Regions from separate parts of the Homo sapiens genome. Here all the other regions are linked to region 5. Evidence: fine-mapped expression QTL. A gene starts in region 5. Each other region holds a variant in brackets. All regions are shown on one strand. Distances are from middle to middle. Region 1 has its middle 22 kb from the start of CCDC149. Region 2 overlaps CCDC149 (coiled-coil domain containing 149). Region 3 has its middle 34 kb from the start of CCDC149. Region 4 overlaps LGI2 (leucine rich repeat LGI family member 2). Region 5 holds the start of CCDC149 (coiled-coil domain containing 149). Region 6 has its middle 59 kb from the start of LGI2.

What was found. PIP is the estimated chance that this variant, and not a neighbour inherited with it, causes the effect. A credible set is the group of variants that fine-mapping cannot tell apart.
Region 1: its variant is the best candidate, but not a certain one, in a credible set for the expression of CCDC149 in whole blood (TOPMed, PIP 0.89).
Region 2: its variant is the best candidate, but not a certain one, in a credible set for the expression of CCDC149 in pancreas (GTEx, PIP 0.59).
Region 3: its variant is the best candidate, but not a certain one, in a credible set for the expression of CCDC149 in nasal epithelium (TOPMed, PIP 0.86).
Region 4: its variant is the best candidate, but not a certain one, in a credible set for the expression of CCDC149 in whole blood (INTERVAL, PIP 0.72).
Region 6: its variant is the best candidate, but not a certain one, in a credible set for the expression of CCDC149 in whole blood (TOPMed, PIP 0.75).

What each region holds. Positions count from the first base shown.
Region 1 is chr4:24,932,566-24,936,654 of GRCh38, forward strand. It overlaps a transcript of CCDC149 not described here. Among named protein-coding and RNA genes, the nearest start is that of CCDC149, 22 kb to the left of the region's middle. The variant T/A (reference allele first, on the strand shown) is at 1,712.
Region 2 is chr4:24,805,626-24,809,714 of GRCh38, forward strand. CCDC149 (coiled-coil domain containing 149) reads right to left here. Exons shown (of 13, transcript NM_001395273.1): 13 at 1-3,194. The coding sequence ends at 2,764. Among named protein-coding and RNA genes, the nearest start is that of SOD3, 12 kb to the left of the region's middle. RefSeq lists an enhancer at 3,118-3,698. The variant T/C (reference allele first, on the strand shown) is at 2,133.
Region 3 is chr4:24,944,889-24,948,977 of GRCh38, forward strand. It overlaps a transcript of CCDC149 not described here. Among named protein-coding and RNA genes, the nearest start is that of CCDC149, 34 kb to the left of the region's middle. The variant G/T (reference allele first, on the strand shown) is at 1,645.
Region 4 is chr4:25,015,595-25,019,683 of GRCh38, forward strand. LGI2 (leucine rich repeat LGI family member 2) reads right to left here. Exons shown (of 8, transcript NM_018176.4): 5 at 3,573-3,644; 6 at 2,395-2,564. All of the region lies in intron 4 of LOC102723675 (a long non-coding RNA gene), which reads left to right. Among named protein-coding and RNA genes, the nearest start is that of LGI2, 13 kb to the right of the region's middle. The variant G/A (reference allele first, on the strand shown) is at 1,849.
Region 5 is chr4:24,910,819-24,914,907 of GRCh38, forward strand. It overlaps CCDC149 (coiled-coil domain containing 149), which reads right to left and starts at 2,224. Exons shown (of 13, transcript NM_001395273.1): 1 at 1,999-2,224. The coding sequence starts at 2,046.
Region 6 is chr4:24,970,057-24,974,145 of GRCh38, forward strand. It overlaps a transcript of CCDC149 not described here. Among named protein-coding and RNA genes, the nearest start is that of LGI2, 59 kb to the right of the region's middle. The variant A/G (reference allele first, on the strand shown) is at 1,764.

The sequences.
Region 1 (4,089 bases), 22 kb after region 5:
TCTTCTTTTGAGTCCTCAAACTCTGTAAATAAATCCAGATCCCCAGAGACGACTTTCCTTTTCTTTAAATGTGGATTCCTGGTAAGCTGTAATCCCCTCCCATTGGTCATGAGCCTTCTACAGACTAAATTTAGAAAAATTAAATTGCAACCCAGCACTGGCTTCCAAAGTGAAATGAATAGGGCAGAATACCTGAAAACACCAGGGAAAACATTAGTCAGAGGGAAGTGTCAGGGACCTGGTGATCAATCTCACATGTCCACAATCAGAAAAGCAAAGGTCCTATTCATTTAGAAAGAAAATGGAGCTGTGCGAACCAATTTAGAGCCATCAGAGCAATGATCTGGGAGAGGAGCCTTGTTCTAATTATGACTCTGTGTTCCAACCAGGCATGAAAGAAATCACAGCAAACCTATTTCAGAGAAAGGCATTCCCAATGTGGCAGTGTCTGATGTCTTATGCATGGTGAGGGCCAGTGAGTCAGGCAGGAAAAAAAACAGAAAATGATCTTCTTCTATGACTAACAAAGAGGGGGCTGTTCTTGTGTTGCCCTGATGGAAAAATTGGTGGGATCTCAGGAATTAATAAGGAACTATCAGCCCCTGCTTGCATGTGCTATCCTAAAAGTGAGGACTTGTATGTACTTAAATGGGAGGGGCTGGGTGGCACTAGAAATCTATCCTGGGAAGATAGGATACTAAGTGGTACTTTGTCATTAACCTACCCACAGGATTATTCAGTGAATGGTAATAACGCCCAAGTCATCTTAAAATGTACTGCAGATCTTGAACCAAAGTATTTTCTGGATTTAAAAAAACAAATGCCTGGTAAGTTTTTCTAGCAAACTGATAGAGAACTTTGATTTAAAAGGCAAAAGTAATTGGATGTTGAGATTAAAGAAAAAAATGTGTCTATGAAGATGAGTATAATTTTTTGTGGAAAGTTAAGGCTTATGTTAGGGTTCTTAGTATTTATTTTATTCAAGAAATATTTATTAAGTCCTGAAATAGGCCAGGCATTGTTCCAAGCACTGGGAATACTGTGGTGAACAAGACAAAGTCCTTTTCCTCCTAGAGTTCATATTCTGGAGGGAGAGACAGATAATAAGCTGTAGACAAATAAATGAGTAATTGTGTAATTTCTTATTGAGATAATTGCTATGAAGAAAAATAAACAGAATGAAGAGTTAGAGAATATTTCAGTTATCAATTGCCATGTAACAAACTATCCCAAAATGTAATGGCTTTGAACAATGACATTAATTTTTCAGGATTGTGGGTTAGAAATTTGGGGAGGGCTCAGCTGGATGGTTCTTCTGCTCCATGTGACACCAGTTGGAGTCAACCACTTGTTGGCATTCTGTTGCCAACGATGCTGAAAGGTCCAATAAGTTATTCATATGTTTGATGCCTCAGGGCTCCTTCATGTGTATGCTGTCACCCTCCATGGTGTCATTCTCACCATTCAGTAGTCTAGCTTGATCTTCTTTGCAGCATGACAGCTGGCCTTTCCAAAGAAGACCAAAGTGGAATGTGCCAAGCCTCTTAAAGGCTAATCCTAGGACTGTGATATCATTTGGCTGTGTCCCCACCCAAACCTCATCTTGAATTGTAGCTCCTATAATTCCCACATGTTGTGGGAGAGACCCAGTGGGAGGTAATTGAACCATGGGGGTTGTTTCCCCCATACTGTTCTCATGGTAGTGAATAAG[T/A]CTCATGAAATGTGATAGTTTTATAAAGGGTTTCCCCTTTTGCTTGGCTCTCCTTCTGTCTCTTGCCTGCTGCCATGTGAGATGCCTTTGCTCCTCCTTTGCTTTCCACCAGTGTTGTGAGGCCTCCCCAGCCATGTGGAACTGTAAGTTAATTAAATCTATTTTTCTTTACAAATTACTCAGTCTTGGGTAGGTATTAGCAACATGAAAACAGAATACAGATTGGCACACTGCTACCTCTTCTGCATTCTCTTGGTCAAAGCAGGCCACAAAACTGGCCCAGACTCAAGGGTGGAGATATGGACTCCACTTTCTAATGGCAGAATTAGTTATCTATTACAAAGAGTGACTGGGAGTAGTGGACCATGTTAGATATTGTAATCTCAGGAAATGACATTTGAACAGGCACCTGAATGAAGTGAGTGGTTGAGCCACAGCAAAGATGGTCTAGATGCACACTCTAGACAGAGGGAACCATGAGGACAAAGGCCTTGAGATAGAAACACTTAGTGTCTTTGAGGATTAATAAGAAGGTCAAAGAGAACAAAGATATGGGATGTGGCTGAAGAAAGTCGACTGAGAATACGATAAGTAAACAGTTGATGGAGACAGAGAGGTAGTCAGATTATCATGAGACTTGAAGGTCATGATCAGATCTTTATATTTTATTACAAATGTGATGAGAACCTCTCATAGAAGAGTAACATGAAATGGCTTATATATCCGAAGGATCCCACTGGCTTCCATGTAGAAAATGGATTAGAGGAAAGAAGGAGGATAGGTGGGATGAGGGAGACCAGATAGCAGGCTCCATCAATCATCCTGATGAGAGATGATGGTGGCTTAGACCAGAGAAGTAGCAACGGAGATGCAAGAATTTATCAGATTCTGGAAGTATTTTTAAGTTAGACACAGCAATGCTTGCAGATAGATTGGATGTAGAAGTGAAAGAAAGCGCATAATTCAAACTTACTTCAATATCTTAGGACTAGACAACCGTGTTAATCATGGTACCATTTTCTGGAATGGAAAAGACACAAGAAGAGCAAATTTGGGGTAAGGGGTAGTAAAAGTAAAGATTTATATTTTAAATAATTCAAGGGGACTATTAGAAATCAAAATAGAGATTTTAGTTCGGCAGTATACTGCGATCTGAATGCTTGTGTCTCCCTTAAATTTATGTTAAAACCTAACCCCCAATATGAAGGTATAAGGAGGTGAGGACTTTGGGACATTATTAGGTCATGACAGCAGAACCCTCATGAGTGGGATTCGTGCCCTTATAAAAGAGACCCCAGAAAGCTCCCTTGCCCCTTCCATCACGTGAGGACCGAGTGTGAAGGCACCATCTATGAACCAGAGAGCAAGCCCTTACCAGACACCAAATCTGCAGGGCATTGCCTGTGGATTTCCAGTCCCCAGAACTGTGAGAAATAAATTTCTGTTGCTTATAAATCACCCAGTAAATGGTATTTTGTTATAGCAGTCAGAAAAGACTAGACACAATGAATATATGAGTCTAAAGTTTAGGGGAGAGGGAGAACCAAAGTTATATATTTGCGAGTCATCTATATATAGCTGGTATTTAAAACCATGAAACTGAACGGAACCTAGAACTCTCAATTTTTAGAGATCAGGCATAGGAGAGACCAGCAAAGAGACAAAAAAGAGGTGGTCAGTGAGTAAGCAGAAGTAACAAGAAAGAGAATGATGTCCAGGAGGCCATGGAAAGTGGATGTGTCAAGAAAGAGGCAATGCTCACCCAAGCTGCTGATATTAGTCAACTCAGATGAGAAGTGCTCATTGGTTCCAGAAGTCTTGGGCAACCTTGACAAGAGCAAGTTCAGTGGAGTAGTAGGGAAAAAAGAACTGATGAGAAAGTAGAGGCAGCTAATATACACAACTCTTTCCAAGACTTTCGCTTAAAAAGGCAGGGGAGAAATTGGTCAGTAGGGTCAGTGGGGGGTATGAATAAGGGAGGTTTTCAGTTTTGCTTTTTGAGGTTTTCTTTTTAAGATGGGCAATATTGCCACATATTTTTATAATGATTGAAATATATCAATCATTATATTATATATATATCATCAAATATATGTTCTAGGGAAAATCAGGATTTATTTTCTTTAAATATTTTAAATTTATTTTTTAAATGTGTAATTGACATAATTGTCCATGTTTATGGGATATAATGTAATGTTTCAATGCATGTATATATAGTATCATGATCAAATCAAGGTCGTTACCATATCTATCACTTTAAATATTTATAATTTCTTTGTGGTAACAACATTCAAAATCTCCTCTTTCCGCTTTCTTGAAATATATAGTACATTGTTATTTTCTATAGTTACTCTAGTATATAACAGGACACCAAAATG
Region 2 (4,089 bases), 110 kb before region 5:
TAATACCATCTCCCTTGCTAAGAAATGGTTAAGACATTGCCATGTGACATCATCATGTGACAAGGTCTCATGCGACCACAAGCCCCAGGTGATCATTCTGACCAATAAAATGTGATAGGAACTGGGTTTCTCGCTCTTGAAACACACACACACACGTATGTGGGAAGAAACTTCCTTCTGCCTTTGAACAGGTGTTATCTGGAGCTGTTGCAGCCACCTCGTTATCATGAGAAAGCAGCTGACACAGCAGGAAGAGCAGGAAGATGGAAACCTAGAACCTTGACAACTTTCTTGAATGTATAGCCCTGGAATGCCTTACTTTCGAAGTTCCTGTTATACAACATAATTCATTTCCCTACCGCTTAAGTTTCTGTTAAGTGTGGCTTGAAGCTGAGAGGACCATGACTGATGCAGGGTTATCTAGTGAAGTAGGGGACAGAATGCCACAACCTTAAACTTTGATCCTAAAAAAGACAAAAGACAGCTGTAAGTAATTGCAGAAAGCCCCTTTAATGTCTGTGGAACAGAAGAACCATGTTGGATGGGGAAAGCAGGGGCAGGACACACGTGTCGCGTATCTATGGGGTGTTATCAGGGTTATATCTGTGACAGGATCAACTAACTTACTGGCTCTCATTTCACCTGATAACATAAGACCCTCCCCGCTGACTACACACAGTTTAGGTTATCACTCCTTATGACTCCTGCTCCCTGCCCTGCACCCTAGATTCTCTGGGACTCACTGCAGTTTTCCTGACTCTGATGGAATGTGCTGGAGTCTATTACGAGCCCTGCTTTTCAGAAGGTGCTCAACAGGCCCTGAAGATGTGCATCTGGCCGATGGTGGGTCAAAACCAGAGTTCTGCAGGCTGAGATTTTTCCTTTTATTATTATTAAACTTGGCTGTGTTTTCCTTCGGTGGCTCTGGCATCCTATGCAGTAGTGCTGGACATTTGCAGGCAGTTAAGGCCCAGTACAGCAGGAAGAATGATTTCTGTGACTGCTGGTCTGTGCAAGCCCTCCAGCTGCGGGAGCAACCTCCCTTGAGGAGAAGTTGTGGGGGTGGGCCTGGTGGGGAGGGCGATAGGCTGGGACAGAAGGAAGGATGGAATACTGGACCTGGTGGCCAGGGGTCAATGGGATGTCCTTCTCACCAGAAGCAACAGAACGCCGACTCCAGCATGCTCCCATTTCAACTAAAGTAGTGGGAGACCCACCCAATGTGCATCAAAGGCCTGGGTCCTTCTGGGCTGCACTTTGAGGAGGAGCAGCATAGTAAGGGATGGGGCGCCCATTCTGCTAGCAGAGTGATTCCTGGAGATGCAATCTGGGAGGGATGTATCCACGTGGCTGACCCCTCGTGTCCAGATGTCACATCTTAGTGTCATGAGCCTGGTATAAACATTGAATTTTTAGGATGCATTTTCACTGAGAGGCTACCACTCTGGGAGCCTCTCTTTTTCCTGCAAGGAGCGCCTCTCAAAGGAGTGATTCTGGTTCTCAGAGGCATTCTGAGCTTTGGGATCTAGTCTCAGGCTTTCCAGGGAAGGAAAAAGCTATGGCTGGATGACTTTTAGTTTTCTGCAGTGCCGGATGCCAACTAGAAAAGCTCATTTTTATCTGAAAGGAAAGAACCAGCTAGAATTGAGCATGCCCTCCTTTCCCATCCCTGTATCATGTCCTTGGTTCCACATCCCCCCTTGCCATGCTGTTGTGAAGTTGTTTTGTTTTCCTCTCTCTTTCCCATAAAAGGTCATGAGCTCTGTTTCTGTCTTTAAGATTCCCGTACTTGGTGGCACAAATGAGGCAGCCTCAACATTCTGTTGAAGGAGTGAAGGGTTTGGAAGTTCCAGGTGGTGCAGGAAACTAGACTGGCTCCCAGCAGGTAGATCTTTCCCAAACCTGAAATGGCCATACAATCCTGTATGTGAGACAGGCTGAATGCAGAGAATGAGCATTTCCAGGTGGTAGCTCTCATCTCATCTCACAAAAAAAACCAGACCACCACTGGGAGTCCTGTTCCCCGGCTTTTATGCTCACCCCTCCCAGTCACTTCAGATCAGTTAATTCTCCAGATTTACAAGCTAGAAAACTCCAGCTCTGGCACTCAGCACACAGGCCTCAACCGGGGC[T/C]GTGGATTTCAACCCAGAAGCCCAAACTTCTCAGCCGGCTTAAGGCCCCTTCCAACTGCCAGTCTGTACCACGACAGCAGTGCTGTGGGCACAATGCCAAGCACACCCATGCCAGGCAGTCCTCCTGGGCCCTGACTTGATGGGGTGCAGCCATGGGTCCTCTGGACACGTTTTGCTCAATTATACCTTCCTCTCCAGCTGCCTAACCTTGACCAAGATGGGGACCTGATTAAAAACCCCATCAGTTTCTAGCTCTTCCCATAATTTTGATTGACAACATTAAATGCTAATACAAAAACATCTTATCTCTGATAAAACAAAAGCTGACAGAAAGACGGATGCTGAAAACCAGCCATATGGTGGACACGATTCCTGGGCCTGGCCCTGTTCACAGTAGCACTCTCTGGCAGAAAAGAGATGACACTGAGAAGCTTGAGGACCTACATTTAATAAATCAAACTGTACTGGCATCATCAGAATATTCACAGTTTGCAACAGGATCAGTGCGTTTTCTCACTTGCAGACTCGGAGGTATTTCAGGAGAAGGCGACGTGAGCGCACCATTCCGATGCTTCATTCTTGACCCTCTCTGGGGCTTTCAATGTGTCATTGTGTCAGATCCCTCTCCCCTTCAGGTTTTCACGGTGCTCCTCATGCCTCCGCCCTCTGGGATCCCTTTGCCGTCTTCCGGTGTGGAAGCTTTGGCTGCTGGCCGGCTGGCCTCGAAGGAGTCCAGGTGAGATTTAGGGAGCTCCCCCTGGATGGCCAGGCCTGGCGGGGCTGGCCCCGTCTCACTCCTCTGACCTTCTATGGGACTCTCTCTTCTGACCTCTTCCAGTTCTGCAGCTGCCTGTTCCTTTGTCAGTTTAATTATTTCCCTCCCAAGGCTGTTTACTTCTTCCTCAGAAGGTAACTGGGGTAATGAAGGATGAAAGAGCTTGCATTGGTTCCCGCGGCTCTGATTTGCTGGGGAGTTGACAGCGGGCCTCCCAGCATCCTCAGGCGCTGTCAACGCCTCAGCAGCGGCACAACTTTCATCTTCTTCTTGCTTCTGAGCCTCCCCTGAAAACAGAACGAGGACAACATTAAACCTCTGGCAGCAAATCAGCCCTCACCGCCCCTCTTCTGCCAACCTCCTGCCCAGCCTACCAGCACAGGGCCTCTGAAAAAGGAGCAAGACTTTTTTGGCTCCCTGTGCAGGGCAATGGAGCCAAAGGGGAACACAGGACCCAGGTGAAACCAGCGAGCATGCATTCTAGTGATTCCTGCATTATTAACAGAGGGCAAGGGAGCACTTGGGCCATGTCATAATCCATCCTTTCCAGGCACCTGGTTAGCTTCTGTTCCATTCTCTAATGGCCGCTCCTTGTGCCCATTAAATATTTAAATTGAGGACAAAGGTTTTGTTGGTTCTGCAGCTGAGAGCCAGGGCTTGTTAGTAATGAAAAAAGGTTCCGGCTGCATTGAGGGTGGGAAGAAGAAGGATAGTTCGGGAAGGATTTAGTGCCACCCCTTCTCCACGATTCTCCATCAGCATCTCATTCCTTAATGCGGACACCTAGTGTTCCTCAATATCAAATAAATTATATGCAAATACACCTTCAAGCTCCCTCCCCTGTTGAGTTGTTGTCCCTAAACCCCTTCTCTATAGGATGGAAATTCTAGCACTGCAACAGGAAGGACATGGGAGAGAAGGGGGAGCCCTTAAAGTGCTGACATCCAGCCCTCATTTCCCTACTCACTTGCTTTGTGATCAGGATAGGACTCTCTGATGCCCCTTCTGGACCTAACCAGCAATGCTTGCTCTGCATGAGTGGGGAGCAGCATGGCGGAGCCAGCTCTTAGTACCCGGGCATGTGCATTCAATAACAGACACTGAGTTTCCCCAGAAGCCAATCTCTTCCCAGCCCTCAGGCTAAACAGTGAAGAAAGGTATGACAGAGCCACAGTGGGACTG
Region 3 (4,089 bases), 34 kb after region 5:
AGGTCATCAGAGCTCAGGTGCAGGTTCATTTCTGCTTCAGAGTCCAGCCCCTACTCCCACAAACCCTCCTTTCTCCTTAAATGGAAAAATACCTGCATGTTTTATATGAGAACTGAATACTGAAGTTGGAAGATGCCTGTGCAGCCCCTTCTAGGACATTTGTCCTCATGCTTTAGAGGGTTCCAAATCCCCGAATGGGCTTATTGAATCACAGTTTGCTGGGCTCCACTCCCAGGCTTGTTGACCCAGTAGGTCTAGGGTGGGGGCTGAGAATTTGCACTACCCAGGTGTACTGAGTTGAATAGCATCCCACCCCCTCAAACCCAAATCGATGTCCACCAGGAATCTCCAAAAGTGACCTTATTTGGAAACAGAGGTTTTGCAGATGTAACTGGTGAAGATGAGGTCACACTGGCCCTAAATCCAGTATGACTGATGTCCTTATAAAGAGAGGAGAAGAGACACACAGATCCAGAGACACATAAGGAGGTGCCATGTATGTGGTAACAGAGGCAGAGATTGGAGCGATGCATCTCTAAGCTAAGGAAAACCAATGAATTGCTAGCAACTCTAGGAACTAGGAAGAGGCAAGAAAGGAGTCCCCGTCAGAGCCTTCAAAGGGAGCATGGCCCTCCTGACACCTTGATTTCAGGCGTCTGGACTCCAGAACTGTGAGAACGTAAATGTCTGTTGTTTTAAGCCACTCTGTTTATGATAATTTGTTATATGCCCTAACTTTTTTTTTTTTTTTTAGTTGAAGTCTTGTTCTATCAGCCAGGCTGGAGTTCAGTGGTGCAATCTCAGCTTACTGCAACCTCCGCCTCCCAGGTTCAAGCGATTCTCCTGCCTCAGCCTCCCAAGTAGCTGGGATTACAAGGGCCTGCCACCACGCCCTGCTAATTTTTGTATTTTTAGTAGAGATGGGGTTTCACCATGTTGGCCAGACTGGTCTTGAACTCCTGACCTCAAGTGATCCACCCACCTGGGCCTCCAAAATGCCAGGATTACAGCTATGAGCCACCATGCCTGGCAGCCCTAACAAACTAATATATCAAGTGATGCTGATGCTGTTGGTCTGGGCATCACAGCTTGAGAACCATTGTTCCAGGAAAAAAGGAAAGAAGGCCAAGTACCTCTCCATAGGCAAAAATAGAAGAATTTGGGTGATAAGTATTCTTGAAAAACATACTTAACAGTCAAAGATAGACACACCACCCTTGCTTGACCAATCACTCTCTCTTCTGGGACTTTAGGTTGTTAGCAAGAGACGCAGACTCAAACATACAGCATTTCTTCTTCCCAGTGCTGTGACCAGGCATCACTGTGGACAGGTGTCATGGTTCAATTGCCTAGCCTGAATCCTATCCACTTTCAGGCCAGTTCTCCAGCCTCCTTGAGATTTTGTGAGTCCCCAGTATCCTTCCAATAAATCCCTTTTTGTAAAATTACTGAGTCCATTTCTGTTGCTTGCAAATCTCTTGTCTTCATATGTGTCCTTGAAGTGGTCTGTACTTAGCTGGGTTAAAGAGGAATGAGAACTTATTTACTTTGATTTTTGAATCATTCAAACATAACACTTTTCAATTAAAATATCTTGGTTTTTTTCCTAATTATAAAAGTAATGCAAACATTGCAACAAATGGC[G/T]GGTACTTGGTAAAGATATTTTTTAAAATCTTTTTGATTGACTTTCCATTGGTTAAAACGCAGTTGCATAGCTAGTGAGAAAATAAAATGTTGATTAACTAAAGGATGTTCCTTTGAGAAAGGAATATATGTTAAATGGCAGTCTAAGGAGTCCACAGTGAATATATGACCACTTTATCCTAGCGTGGGTAGGAGCTTCATCTCTGCCATCCTAGTGGGCAAGTTAATATTAAGGCCAGCTTTGTGATTAGTCTAAAGATTTGCCTGAAAAATCTTATTTATGTTAACTACAGATGCACTTTTAGAGTTTAAGACTTAGGTTTTTAATACACAATTACTTGTGGTGCCCGCATATTCATATGTACTCATAGATTTTCCTCTCCGAACTGTGAATTATTTCCTCTTTGTAATGCCATCTGCTTCCTCCACCCAAGCCACTTTACAATGCTTTCCTAAAGTCGATTTCAATAGCTTCCTCTCTGCCCAGGAAAACAGGTTCCTGTGCAGGACAGTAATAATATTTTTGCAATCTTTGGATAAATTATGTTAATTTTCCCCCTTTATTAATTTACTAATGCATTGAAAGAATCTCAGCTGAATTTTCATCCTTGCTTTTTGCTTAGTGATATGGTTTGGCTGTGTCCCCACCCAAATCTCATCTCAAATTTTTGTTCCCATAATCCCCACATGTCATGGGAGGGACAGGGTGAGAGGTAATTTAGTCATGGGGGTGGTTACCCTCATGCTGTTCTCATGATAGTGAGTGAGTTCTCATGAGATCTGATGGTTTTATAAGGGGCTTTTCCTCTTTTTGCTTGCTGCCGCCATGTGAGGAAGGACATGTTTTCTTCCCCTTCTGCCATGACTGTAGGTTTCCTGAGGCTTCCCCAGCCATGCTGAACTGTGAGTCAATTAAACCTCTTTTCTTTATAAATTACCCAGTCTCAGGTATGTCTTTATTTGCAGTGTGAGAACGGACTAATACATGTAGAGAACTCCTCCCTCCTAACCTACAAAAAGTCACAGATGTCTATGTCAAACTGGACTCCCATGAAGTCCTCCCCACGTCTATCCTCCTCTTCCATGAAATCCAAGCCAGGGTTGCCTGAATCACCTCATCCTCAACAACATTTCTCAGAATAGGAAATATTCAAAATTTGCCACCACTCATCTTGTGGGCTTCATATAAAAAATACAAAATGCTACCTTTTAAAAATTAAAAAGCCAGTAAATTACCTTCCAAGATTCAATCTGAGTTTAGAAAATTCATTACAATGAAAAAAGAAGGAGGATTTTTTTTTTTATTGCAGATAGTTAGTGGCATTGATGGATTATGGCAGAGCCATCCGCAATATGGCCAAATAATTTCACTGGAGAGGATTTTATATAGCTACAGCTAAAATTCAATGAACTGATTCAGAAGACTCAGTATAAAATATAACAGTGACTTCGAGTGCCAAATCAATTTGGGGGCTTGAAGGGATAGGGAGAGCCTTCGTTCCCTCCCTGTTCATGGACGTTACTTTAACTGGAACTGTAAATTCACAGGCGTAGGAGTGGCAGGCAGTGGGCTACGGCAGGTGATTTAAGAAACCTATCCTGAAAAATCAGAAAGTGGTTGCAAATAGCTGTCCTTAGAGAAGCGTGTGACTCTGAAGTACATCCAAGAGAGAAAGTTCAAAGGATGTTCTCGAGGACAAATTAGGGATTTGCCATCAGGTGACAAGGGTTCTAGGTTTACAAATGGATCAACTTGAGTCCTTGTTTTCTACCTCAATCTCCACCCTTGTGAAATAAAAAGGTTGATGCAGAATAACGGCTTTCACAATGTTGGTTATCTTTGTCTTTTTAATAGTAGGAGGCTTTTTGCTCATGGATTCATCCTACTCTGCTGGATTTTCACTTTGCCTCTGCAGACCCATGCTCCAGCATTCTCACCCTGCTCTTGCTCCACAATGCTGAGGACTGCATTATTAAACTCCCTTGCCGGCCAGCTTCCACTCAGGTTTAGCCAGCAGGAGGTGCCCATAGAAGATTGGAGGATGAAATAAGATAGAGGGCAGGATGTTGACACCTACAACTCCCTCCCTCCCAGGCCACTGGTTGGCAGTGGCAGTGCTCCTGCCCAGTGTCCTCCTTCCACCATATCTCTCTTTTCCTCTCTCTGGGTTCCAGAATCATCCGTGATATGGTTTGGCTGTGTCCCCACCCAAATCTTGAATTGTAGTTCCCATAATTCCCACATATTATGGGAGGGACCTGGTGGGAGGTAATTGAATAATGAGGGTGGGTCTTTCTTGTGCTGTTCTTGTGATAGTGAATAAATCTCATGAGATCTGATGGTTTTATAAAGGGGAATTTCCCTGCACAAACTCTCTCTTTGCCATCCACTATGTAAGATGTACCTCTGATCTTCGTTCATCTTCCGCCATGATTTTGAGGCCT
Region 4 (4,089 bases), 100 kb after region 5:
CATATTCAGAAAATGTGCTTCTTTCTAAACCTTTGGCAAGAATACGATCACTGTACCATGAACTCTCGACCTTTGGCTTTCCATTTTCCCTCCATCCTCATTTGTTCCCCCGACCCCACGCCCCTACTCCCCATCTAGCTTTTAACGAAGCAACAGAGGCTAAGGTTTGATCTGAACAGAAGACATGAACCCCGAACACTCAAAATTTGTTGACCTAGTTCTTACACAGCGGGGCCTATGTTTGGGGGTGGATCACAACTTTGTTGTACCATTTTTTTCCCGATGGAAGAAACTGTCAGCAAGAGCCTCATCTCTGTTTGTGAGTCTTAAAGGGATAAAACCATAGCACAAAGCCAGAATTATCATCTCCCTCTCACCAGAAAGCCTAGCGCTGACTTTCTAAAGTTTAGTAGGAAGCTTGTTCATGAAGACAAATACTGCATGAGACAGAGAAGGCTCTAAAATGTGTTAAGGCCTCTTGCTACTCCATGTTGGGATGAGGACAGGTTACCTCAGTTCCAAGCTACCACCATTCCAATAACAATTCTCAGAGCCTGGATCACTTTTATAACTATCCTCAGGGCCCTAAGCTCAGAAAATATGTTTTCTTGTAGAAATTATTTCCTATTCCCACGGCCCTATAGCCCATTACTTCCATCAGAGATTAGCAAAGTTTCTCCACGCTATGGCCAGGTGTGAAGAGAACAAGGGAAAATCTGCAAATTTCACCTTGGTGTTTCGAGACCTCTGCAGAGAAAATGGAGAAAAGGTAGTGAGAAGTCTCAGTGAGCTTTAGTTTAGCTTTGGTTTATTCAATTTAATTAAATTTAGCATTTAACGCCAAATAGTCTTGAATGCCACCTTTTGGTGCAAATGTTATCGACTACGACCTCTGATTTATTGTCCTGGCCCTAAAATACAATAAACTAACCTCGTAGTGGCCTCAGCTGACTGTGGGGCACCTGTCAATTACACAGCTGAGTAAGCCCCTATTTGATGATGAAAGGAAAAGTCATTTCTGTGAGATTGCAGGTTGTCTATCAGAAAAGAATAGAACTTGCAGGGTCCCTTATTTACAAACAAAGATACCTAGAAATGATCTTTACTTTCTGGGTTTTTGTTTATTTGTTGGAAGGTGGTAGCGGGGACTGGCCTAAATATGATATTTTGTTCTTGGAGTTTTGGTGTCTTTTGAGTTTCTGTAACTATTTTCTGTTTCTCATTCCTGCTGCTTCTCCTGACATGACTTGAGGCTTTGTAGATATCAGCTCTCAGCCTGAATGTTTATTTTTATAAATTGGGTAAGCAGGTTTCATACAGCGGCCTGATCCTCCTCTCTCTGGCTTTAGAAGCTGTAGAAACCCCACCTAAGCCTTTCCAATGGAGATACTCACCAATACCTTTGGCCCCATGTTGTGACAGTGGAGGCAGTTAGTATTTTGGTTTTATCTTATAACCTGAAAAATGTATAAACTGAAAGTTTGTGGCAGGCCCTGGAAAACAAAATCAAGCTTTCTTTACATTTTTCCCTCGATATGAGCTGTTTCCTTTTGATAACTAGTTGTTAACTTTTATTTTCTATTTTGCCATTGGTTATAATTTACCTAGTTATCTCTTCTTACATGGGACTCTGAAAGTCATTTGTGGGTTTAAAAGTCTGGTGTTTGGGCCAGGCGCAGTGGTTCATACCTGTAATCCCAGCACTTTGGGAGGCCAAGGTGGGCGGATGATGAGATCAGGAGATCGAGACCATCCTGGCCAACATGGTGAAACCCCGTCTCTACTAAAAATACAAAAATTAGCCGGGTGTGGTGGTGCACACCTGTAATGTCAGCTGCTCAGGAGGCT[G/A]AGGCAGGAGAATCGCTTGAACCCAGGAGGTGGAGATTGCAGTGAGTTGAGATCACGCCACTACACTCCAGCCTGGGCGACAGAGTAAGACTCTGCCTCAAAAAAAAAAAAAAAAAAAAAAAAAAAATTCTGATGTTTGTTAGTTAAATGTCCAATGAACATCTTCCTAAAGCAAAAGAACAGTCTCAACCGAGTAATCTAAGCCTCCCTGCAGTGGCCTTCTATGAAACCTAGATTGATTTGAAAATGTTCTCCTGCCAAACCCACAAGTTTATACTTTGACTTAAGAAAATGAAACACTTACAGAAATTTGAATTTCGTAAAGAAGCAAAAATAAAGCCAGGGCAGTTAACAAAAATTCTCCCAAACTTTTGAGATATTTTCCTTACCACATCGATTCATTTCTTTAGAATGTTTAAAATTTCTCTAAAACAATTTTGATAAACAGTTCTATATTCACTTTTCCCCAGTCTCTGTTGACAGTGTAAAAGAAAGACAAAGAGATTATTCTAAATATCCGTGTCTGATGAGATAGGCTCTGAATACCTGTAGTTGTGCATTCATAGTCAAAGCTGGTCACGTCATTTAGCTTCTTTTCCTGATACTCTGGTGGACCAATACACAGCACATCAGAAACGGTGGAATTTGTCATCTTCAACCACAGGTATAGCCACTTGGCTTTGCAGTCACATTCAAATTTATTACCCCTCAAATCTCTAAAAATCAAAATAAAACACAAACACATACAAAGAGAAATAGATGTGTCTGACATGTTTTGGTAGTAACACGAAACTCCAGAATTATTAACATCCTGATATATTTAAAACCCCCTAAAAATGGAGTTTAAAAACTTTTATAATTAATATCTCCTGTTTCTTGTATCTATCATTGACTTTATTTAATACTCCTCAGCACCTGGGAATTTAACTGAATAACTGTATAATGTCCAGAGAGCTCTCAGCGAGGACATATCATCTCTCCAAATGCTCTCGTCTCCACGCCATGCCAGAAATGGGAGACATATGATAGAAGAGCAGCCCCCAACAGAGGTTCTCATAAACAAAGAGGATATTGTAGGAAGACAGTTTTCACAAACACAATTGAAACTTCAAGCTCTTGTTAAAACTACGTCCAGTAGGCCAGGCACGGTGGCTCATGCCTGTAATTCTAGCACTTTGGGAGGCCAAGGTAGGCAGATCACCTGAGGTTAGGAGTTCGAGACTAGCCTGGCCAACATGGTGAAACCCCGTCTCTACTAAAAATACAAAAATTAGCTGGGGGTAGTGGTGTGCGCCTGTAGTCCCAGCTACTCAGGAGGCTGAGGCAGGAGAATCACTTGAACCCAGGACGCAGAGGTTGTAATGAGTGGAGATCATACCATTTCACTCTAGCCTGGGCAACAGAGCAAGACTACATCTAAAAAAAAAAAAAATACATCCAGTAAGAAGCAATGATAGAAGATAAAGCAGGTGAACGTGCCATCTCAGGGAGGTGATCTCCCACCCAGCAAGTGTGATTTACCATTGGCCTCATGGTGCTAAGTATAAAATGGCAAAATCCAACACAATACAAACTGTATGCTATTTCCCAGGATGCACTACTTTGTTATAGATTTTTAACCACAGCATAAAAGAAATGCATAAAAGAAAGGCGAGAGGGGATTGAAAGACATGATTAACTGGGGCACAATGACAAACACACATAAACTAAATTTCATTACTTACAGTTCAATCAGAGAGTCTAAATCACTGAAGACATCCCTTGGTAGTGCTTTTATGTGGTTATTGGCCAAAGAACTAGAACAAGAAAGTCACATTGCAATGTGATTATTATCTCATGCCCTGTCACTCTCAACTCCCTTCAGATAAAGCTGTTGACTTATAGCACGGCTTTGGTCATCAATACTGAGATAGAGAAATGAGCTTAGTTATGCAAATATAACATAAGAGATGCTGGATTATAATATACATTTTCTTTCTTTTTTTTTTTACAAAAAGCACTTTTTAAGCTCTTTATGTATATTTGCTCAACCTCAGATGGCTTCCCATGTTTCCTGGAATCAAAGCCAAAGTTCCTTCGGTGGCATGCAAGACCCTTTATTGCCTGGCTACCTCCACTCTTGCTTACCTAGGAGACCCCATCTCATCGGTTTCCAACTACTCAGTGGATCTCTGATCTAGCCACACTGGCCTCCTTGCTATTCCTCCAACAGGTGAGGCATGCTCCTACCCTCCAGGCCTC
Region 5 (4,089 bases):
TTCCTTATCTGTAAAATAAGAAAGAATTCCTACCTTATGTCATTGTGAATATGAGGCCATGTAAAATGCTTAATATGAAGGATGCACTCAAAAAATAGTCATTAGTTATTATTAAGGTGGGAAGTAAGTTAGACCCATTTTCACCTCCCCCATGGCCCCTGGCTACGTGCCCACCTCATGTTTGTGAAGTTAAGGAGGTATTACTCTGGAGAAACTCTGCTGGGATGGGCAGGAAAACTCCTGAAGGACCTACTTCAGGATTCACTGACTTATTCAACAAGCATTTTTCGAGCACCTGCTGCATACAGAGCTCTGTGTATAGGCCCTGGAATAAAGAACCAAACAAAGCACACGGCCTAGTGAGGAAGCCTATTGTTACAATAATGTGGTCAGGGCAAGGTGAAGGTTAAGCCCAGCCAACTGAGGGGCACCCCATGCCATTTAGCACTTGAAGCCTTTCCATCCTTTAGTTCACTCTCACTGTCTACGGTATGACCTTCCTCCCAGACTATATCATGAAACCCCCAGGAGTTCTTTGAGGGTAGGGGAGTTCTTTGTCTTATTCACCACTGAATCCCAAGCACCTCACAATGTACTGACTCCTAACAGGCACCTGATATGCAATTGTTGGAGTAGTGAAGATTCTGCTGCTATTTAAGGGCCTAACACTGGACTTCTAAGGAGAACTACCTCCAGCCTCCTTGACTACTAAGTATGATTCTTGATGGGACCAGAAACAAGGTCCCCAGAGGATCTGCCCCTTAACATAAAGCCTGACAGTTTGAGAAGATGGAGCCAGGCTGCAATACAATGGATCATAACACCAGACAGTTAGGAGAGCTTTCAACTACTAGACCAATGCTGAGCAAACTAAACTAGGGCAGGAGCTACCGCATGTCATTCCTCTTCAGAAACACAACGCTCTGCACACACTGGGCATGAAGCACTATTATCAGACTGACCTGGAGACCCAGAAAACGATGAAAGGAGTGAGGGAGTAGAGGGTTTCCCTTCCCATAACCCACAAGGAAAGGAAAAGAGCAAACCGATACACTCTGCATTGTGTGCACAGGATTAAAGAAAAGGAAGCCCCAAGTTGGCCTTGGCTGGAGCTTGGTTCTCAGAAGGGAGAAATTCCCCGGCATGGGTAAGTAACACCAGGAATTGCCCCCACAAATGGTGGCAAACCAGGGCAACTTACCTGGTTGCCTCCAGGTGAGAGGGAGAAATCCGCATTCCCTCTCACCTGGAGAGGCCGGCAGCTTCTCCCGGCAGGCCGGCAAACTCTTAGGGGGAACTGAAGAGCAAACAGCATAGGATCCTGAAAGTGGACCCCCAGGGTATGTTTATGACAAAAGAGTCGCAGGGCAGGGGGACACGGTGTTCTGTGCTTCCACAAATCGAATCACTTCTGCACCTGTGTTTCACTTTTTCGATAAATGCCCCTCCCCACCTTACACATGGTAGGCCTGCAGTAAACACGTGTTGATTGAATTGAGCAAGTGAATGAGTGAACGGCTGCAGCGGACCCCCGAACTCCCCCAACTCGAACCACCGCCGCAGGTAATTCCACCTGGCCCAGGTTCCACCCCAGGGCTCGGATTCTCCCCCATGGCACCACCTTCCCGTTTCAGTCCCAGGCGTCCAATTGTTTGGCTCCACAACAGTGGCGAGCGGGCAGGCAGGTGGGGCTTGGCACCTTCTGCTCCCGGATCCCAGGGCTTCAGCCTCCAATCCAGGGCCAACCCCTGCCTTGGGGGGAAGGCCCCTCCCCAAAGGCTGACACCAGATGGCGCGGAAGAAAGTGGCGCCCGCGCAGACCCGAAAGTGCAGGAGGAGCGGCGCACCTGGCGGGGTCGCGCGGGTGCGGCAGCCGCGGCCACTTGGAGTGCGCGCCCCCCTCTCGTCCCTCCCAGCTCGGCCTCTCTGGGGGCGCGGGCCCGGGGCTGGCGGCCGCTCGGCCCGGCCCATCCCGCCTGGCCGGCGCCGCGGCCTCACCTCGCTCACCAGCCCCTGCCAGTCGCTCTCAGTCCGGTCGCCGTTCATGGCCTCCTCCTCCATGCGCTGGCCGGCCTCCTGGACCCCCGCCGCCTCCTCCTCCTCGCGACGTCGCGTCGCCGCCGCCGCCCGGGCCCCGCGCGGCCCCGAGAGGGCCCGGCGCCTCCGAGCCGCTGCGCCGCCGCCTCTCGCGGCCGCCAGCGCTGTTGACTCCACGTCAGCCTCCGCCGGAGGGAAAGGGAGGAGGGGCGCGGCCGCCGGGGCCGCAGACACAGCCCGGGCCGCAGCCGAGCCCCGCCGGGCCCGCCCCGCGCCCTCAGCCCCGCGACCTCGGGCTCCGCGCCTCCTGCCCGGCCTCTAGGCAAGGGGAAGCCAGGGTCTCAGCCTACAGGTCACTCCGGACCCCTCAGCGCTCTCCGCGCGGGAGGCGGGCCCCACGGGCAGGCCTGTGTCCCCCGCAAGAAGCAAATCCCCAAATCCAGTCCTTCTCCGACCACCATCACGACTCCCACGCCTAGAATGCAAGCTCCCCGAGGGCAGGGGTTTCCTTGGTTCGCAGATGTGCCTTTGGCAAGATCCTGGCCCATAGGAGATGCTCTACATATATTTATTGGACGAATATTTGTTGAACGCAAGAATGAATGAACCACGTTTTATTATATACTTAGCATTGTTTTTTAAACTATTAGTGCTTGCTTATATATTTTTTAACGTATCATTTGTCATTAATAGAAAGCAAATGTAAAAATTGAAAATAAAGCATTATTCAATTCTAAATAGGGCCAAAAACTCTGAGGGAGATGGTTAGCATGGGTTGAGAGAGGTGTCAAAGACAAATTGGCACTGGTGGCATTCCATGGCTCATGCCTGTAATCCCAGCACCTTGGGAGGCTGAGGCAGGAGGATCCCTTGAGGACAGGAGTTCAAGAGCAGCCTCGGCCACAAAGTGACACACCCCCTCTTTACAAAAAATAAAATAATTAGCAAAAGGGGAAGGCATTGGCATTAAGCTGAGACTTCTCCTAAGAGGAAAGACTGAAAGAGAATGACAGAGGGAAGGTGAATCACACACATAAGTCAATCGTATTCAAGGTGCTGTTCCTGTGACACCTAAAATCCCCTCTTGGACCACTATCAATAGTGAGCCCTCTGTACTCGCAGAAACGCTGTGTGTGGAGATGAGCAAGTAGGTTGAGAAGTTGTGAACCCATTGTACAGTTGTGGAAGCATCATTACCAACATTTATTTATAATTTTTAGCCCCTGTTGATCCTGGATCAACCCTGTGAAATGGATGTTATCCTCATTTATTAGATGGGGAAACTGAGGCCTGAAACGTGGAGAAACAGGGACTCAACTAGGACTTCTGGCTCTAGCATCTTGGAAATCTAAGAATGAAGTATCACCTTGAAAGTTTGTTCTTGGCCTTGTTTTGCACATGATAGACTGTTTGCAAAATGGCAGCAATCATTCCCCTTCTTTGTCCCTTGCCCTGCCACTGTCTCTTTCACTCTGTGCTCAGTCATGTAACTTGCTTTGACCAAAGCAACGTTTGTACATGTGTTACCAGAAAAAAAAAAAAAAAAAAAGAAAAAAAAAGGCTTTTAAAGCAATTGTGCATTAGGATTTAACTCTTGCTTCTGCTCTTGGAAACCATGTAAATAAGCTCCGAATAGCTTGCTGGTTAAGGTAGGATTCCCAACCAACAGTCAACCATCACCAGATGTGTGAGTGAGGCCATTGCCTGCCGCCCCCTCCACGCCCCCCCACCCCCACCCGCACAGCTGATGACAAGCACATGAGTGAGCCCAGCTGAGACCAGCCGAAGAACCATCCAGCTGAGCCTTGCTCAACTAGCTGACTCACAGCATCACATACTAAATAAGTAGTTGTAGTTTAAGCCACTAAGTTTTAGGGCGATTTGCTAGGTATCAACAGGTAACTGAAATGGATGGTGACACAACTGATGAAGGGCCTGAATGGCTTGAACTCTCCCTGGCAGCCCTTCAAAAAGCAATAGTCCCTGGCATCATAATCTAAAGAAAATTTTACAACGGACTGGCTGGCCAGGAGCTAAGAAAAGGAACCAGTA
Region 6 (4,089 bases), 59 kb after region 5:
GTTTTGCCCATGGCAAAAACCCTTGGTGGCTGCACTGTTATCCAGGGATGAAAGGTTAGCCTATATTTTGCCTGAGGGACGTGCTTTACCTCCATCAGTATCTGTGCCTACTCAGTCATTTCCGTCATAGGTTAACATGCTCCAACTGCATTGTGGACTCAGCCCACACCTACACTGAGATGACCGGTGTTTCCAGCTGTTGGATCTGCACCACCTTTCCAGCAACAGCTGTGGATGGCTGGCCTCGGCACATACATTCAGCATCTGCAGACAACTGCACATGGCTGGAGACTTGGACACCTGTGGCTGATGCCTGGAACGCAATGCAGCAAATTTTGGACAAAGGACACCTCAAGACCCAAGGTGCACCCACCCCCTGGCTAGCCTGTAGCATTTATGATGGGTGGGGCTGGCTACTGGGGGGACGTGTAGTACCTCCAGCCCAGGCATCATGGTGCACTGAGAAACACTGGGGTAACACCACTGAGGAGTGGGTACCCGTCATGGCTTGTGTGAACATAACACATGTCACTACACCAAAGGTATAGTGACAAGGTGGTGGAACAAGAAGCCCCACCAACATCACGCCCTAATGGATTTTGTGCCCCCTGGCAGTCTATGGGTCTGTAGTGACACAGGGTGGCCTTACCAACCAGTGGACTGGACTGGATGTTGTACCTGGGGGTGGCCTCATGTACCTGGCACTGTTCTCCCCATGTTGCCCAGACTCCCACATACCTGGGAGGCACTACTCTCTTGGGTTTTGTGAGTGCAATGAGCCCCCTGGTGGTCCTACCCCTTGGCAATGACTATCCCTGGAGTGGGTGTCAAAACTGTAGAAGCACAAGTTACTGCTCTTGCAGAGCACACCACCAGGGCTCTGAATTACACCCGAGTGGCCCTCATCCTGTTATGGATGAGGTTGATCAGATGAGAAAGGTGGTGTTGCAAAACTGAATGGCCTTTGACATAATAACTGCTGCCCAAGGAGGCACCTGTGCCCTTTTAGGAACACAATGTTGTACCTTTATCCCTGACAATTGGCAGAATATAACAGCAGCCCTGCAAAGGGTCTCATGGGAGATTAAGGTGGTCAAGACCCTTACTGACGACCCCCTACAGAGTTGGTGGGCATCTCTAGGCTCTGGCCTATGCTGGGTCCTAATAGTCATAAGTAGCATAGCTGGGATCCTAGTAGTGAGTTGTTGCTCTCTGTGTTGTTGTTGTGGGTTATGAATTCAGGGCTCTGCCCTATGGGCTTGTGTCCTTGCCCGGGGGACGCCCTCGGCCTGGGAGGTGGAGTATGAGGGAGATGACTGCACTTTAGTCAGGAGTAAGCCAAGGCAGGCTTCCAGTGCAGCATGATTCAGCAGGTTAGGAGTGCAGGTGCACAACCCTGCACATTATGCAACCTTGCCACATGAGGCACGTTAGGTGGTCACCCACATGAGCTTGTGCTTGGCTTGGAGCCACTATTGTCTGCAAAAGGTATAATTACCCTGCTAATGCTGTACGTTCGGCTCGCTCCTGCCCAGGGAGAGAGTACAGCCATGTAGAAGCTGTCTATGATTCCTCGAATGTTTTCCCAGCTATCTGCCACTCACCCACCAACTCCCTTCCTCTTGGCAAGGACATTCTAAAGTTAACCTGAAAAACAAACTAGTTCAGCCCATGATGGGAAGAGGGGGCCAGATATGCCTCATTATACCATCCTCTCTTTTAGAACTACTGATAGAACAGACTCTTTAAGTCTGATAAGAAAC[A/G]TTTACAATCTATTATCTTTGAAACATACTACCTAGAGGCTTCATCTGCATAATAAAACCTTGGTCTCCACAACCCCTTATCATAATCCAGACATTTCTTTCTATTGAAAATAAGTCAACCAGTTGCTGATCAAAAAATCTTTAAATCTTCATGACTTGGAAGCTCTCACTTCCAGTTGTCCCACCTTTCCAGAACCAACCAAGGTACATCTTACACATATCAATCGGTCCCTTATGTCTCCCTAAAATATATAAAACCAAGTTGTGGCCCAACCACCTTGGGCACATTCTCAGAATCTATGGAGGACTGGTCACTCATTTTCACTCAGAATAAATCTCTTCAAACATTCCACAGAGTTTGACTATTTTCACAGACAGAGGGAAGGATGACAAAGGGACACAGGAAAACCCTGGCTATCATGAACTTGTTTGCTGTGTTGATTGTGGTTGAGGACTAAATTCTGACCTTTTTCTTTTCTTTTCTTTTCTTTTCTTTTCTTTTCTTTTTTGAGACAAGGCTCTCTGTCACCCAGGCTGGAGTGCAGTGGTGCCATCTCAGCTCACTGCAGCCTCAACCTCCCTTGCTCAAGCCATCCTCCCACCTCAGCCTCCCAAGTAGCTGGGACTACAGGCACGCACTACCACGCCCAGATAATTTTTGCATTTTTTGTAGAGATGGGGTTTTTCCGTGTTGCCCAGTCTAGTCTCAAACCCCTGAGCTAAAGCAAGCCGCTCCCCTCGGCCTCCCAAATGCTAGAATTACAGACACGAGCCACCACGCCCAGCCTTTTTTCCTCTCTTGCCCAAATTCCTAAGAGGCCTGGGGAGTCACACACTACAAACTGTAAAATCTCATCAGAGACATTTTATTTAAACCTGTCTAACTGACTGACTTTCCAATCTGACCCTGGCATAACATCACATGACAGATAAAGAAGGAAATCAAAACATTTTACCCCAAAGTATGTTTATTTGTCACACTTTGAAATAGCCTGCAACTTTGTTTTTGTGGTGGAATTGCATCTGTAACGAATCTCTGTTAACTAGATATTTCCCCTTCCAGACCCTCCCAATCCTGAAGGGACTAACTGAGGGTCTAGCACTTTTTAAGGGTTTGAGCAGGAAACATTCACCATCTTTTGCCTGTAAGGGTGGGCACCCATGAAGCTTCATCTATGTAACAAGAACCTTGGTTTCCACAACCCCTCATCTTGACCTAGACACTCTTCTATTGATTCCAGGTCTTTAGATAATAACTTAATTCTTTTAATCAATTGCCAATCAGAAGATCTTGGAATCCCCCTATGACCTGTAACCCTCCCCTTCAAGTTGTCCCACCTTTTCAGACCAAACCAATATATACCTCACATGTATTGACTGAAGTCTTATGTCTCCCTAACACATATAAAAACCAAGCTGTAACCCAACCACCTTGGGCACATATTCTCAGCACCTCTTGGGACTGTGCCTCAGGCCTTAGTCACTCATATTTGGCTCAGAATAAACCTGTTTAAAAATTTTATGGAGTCTGACTCTTTGTGTCGACATGGTGGTGGTCCCATGGGTGTACACATATGTCAAAACTTATCCAATTGTACACTTTAAGTATATGGAGTTTACTGTATATCAACTGTACCTCAATAAAGTGCATTTAAAAAAAGTCTGGAGAAAAAGAAGTCCCCTTTTGTTTGCACTTGGAGCTGTGATTAAGCATGCCTGAGGCTACTGGCAGCTATCTTGACATTGTGAGGAGAAAACATGCTTGAGAGTGAGGCCAACCCAGAGGATAAAAAGAACTGAAAAAGGCCAGAGTTAGACCAGATTCCAGCCATCCATCGGTACTGGATCCAGCTGTGCCTACAGCAGTCTCTGGAATTTTTGCTCATTGAGACAATACGTGTGTGTGAGTGTATGATTAACCCGGTCTGAACTGAGTTTTGTTGGTTACAACTGAGGAGTTCTGTGCAACGTTATCCACAGTCCACCAGGCAGGCTGAGAGCTGCTTCTTAACCAGCAAGTGCCTCATGGAGGGATTGGGTTTGGGGTTATGGAAGTGAACAGAGCTGCCTGCCTTAAGGCAAGTAGGCCTTGCTCTGTTCCCCTTGCAGTCCCCGAGCCCGGGAAGCCCGAGAGGGAGCCCTTCAGTGCTTGTGCACTCGGCTGTTTCGCAAGAGTCACGGTCAGTTGCGCCTCTGCTTCGGAAGAGTATTTTTAGTGGCAAATAAAGTGGTGCGCAAATAAACAAACGCCTGGAACAAATCCTGCAAAGGAGAGCGCCTGTGTGCGGCCCACTGTCTAACTAGGTCAGCCTCGGGCACAGCTCCT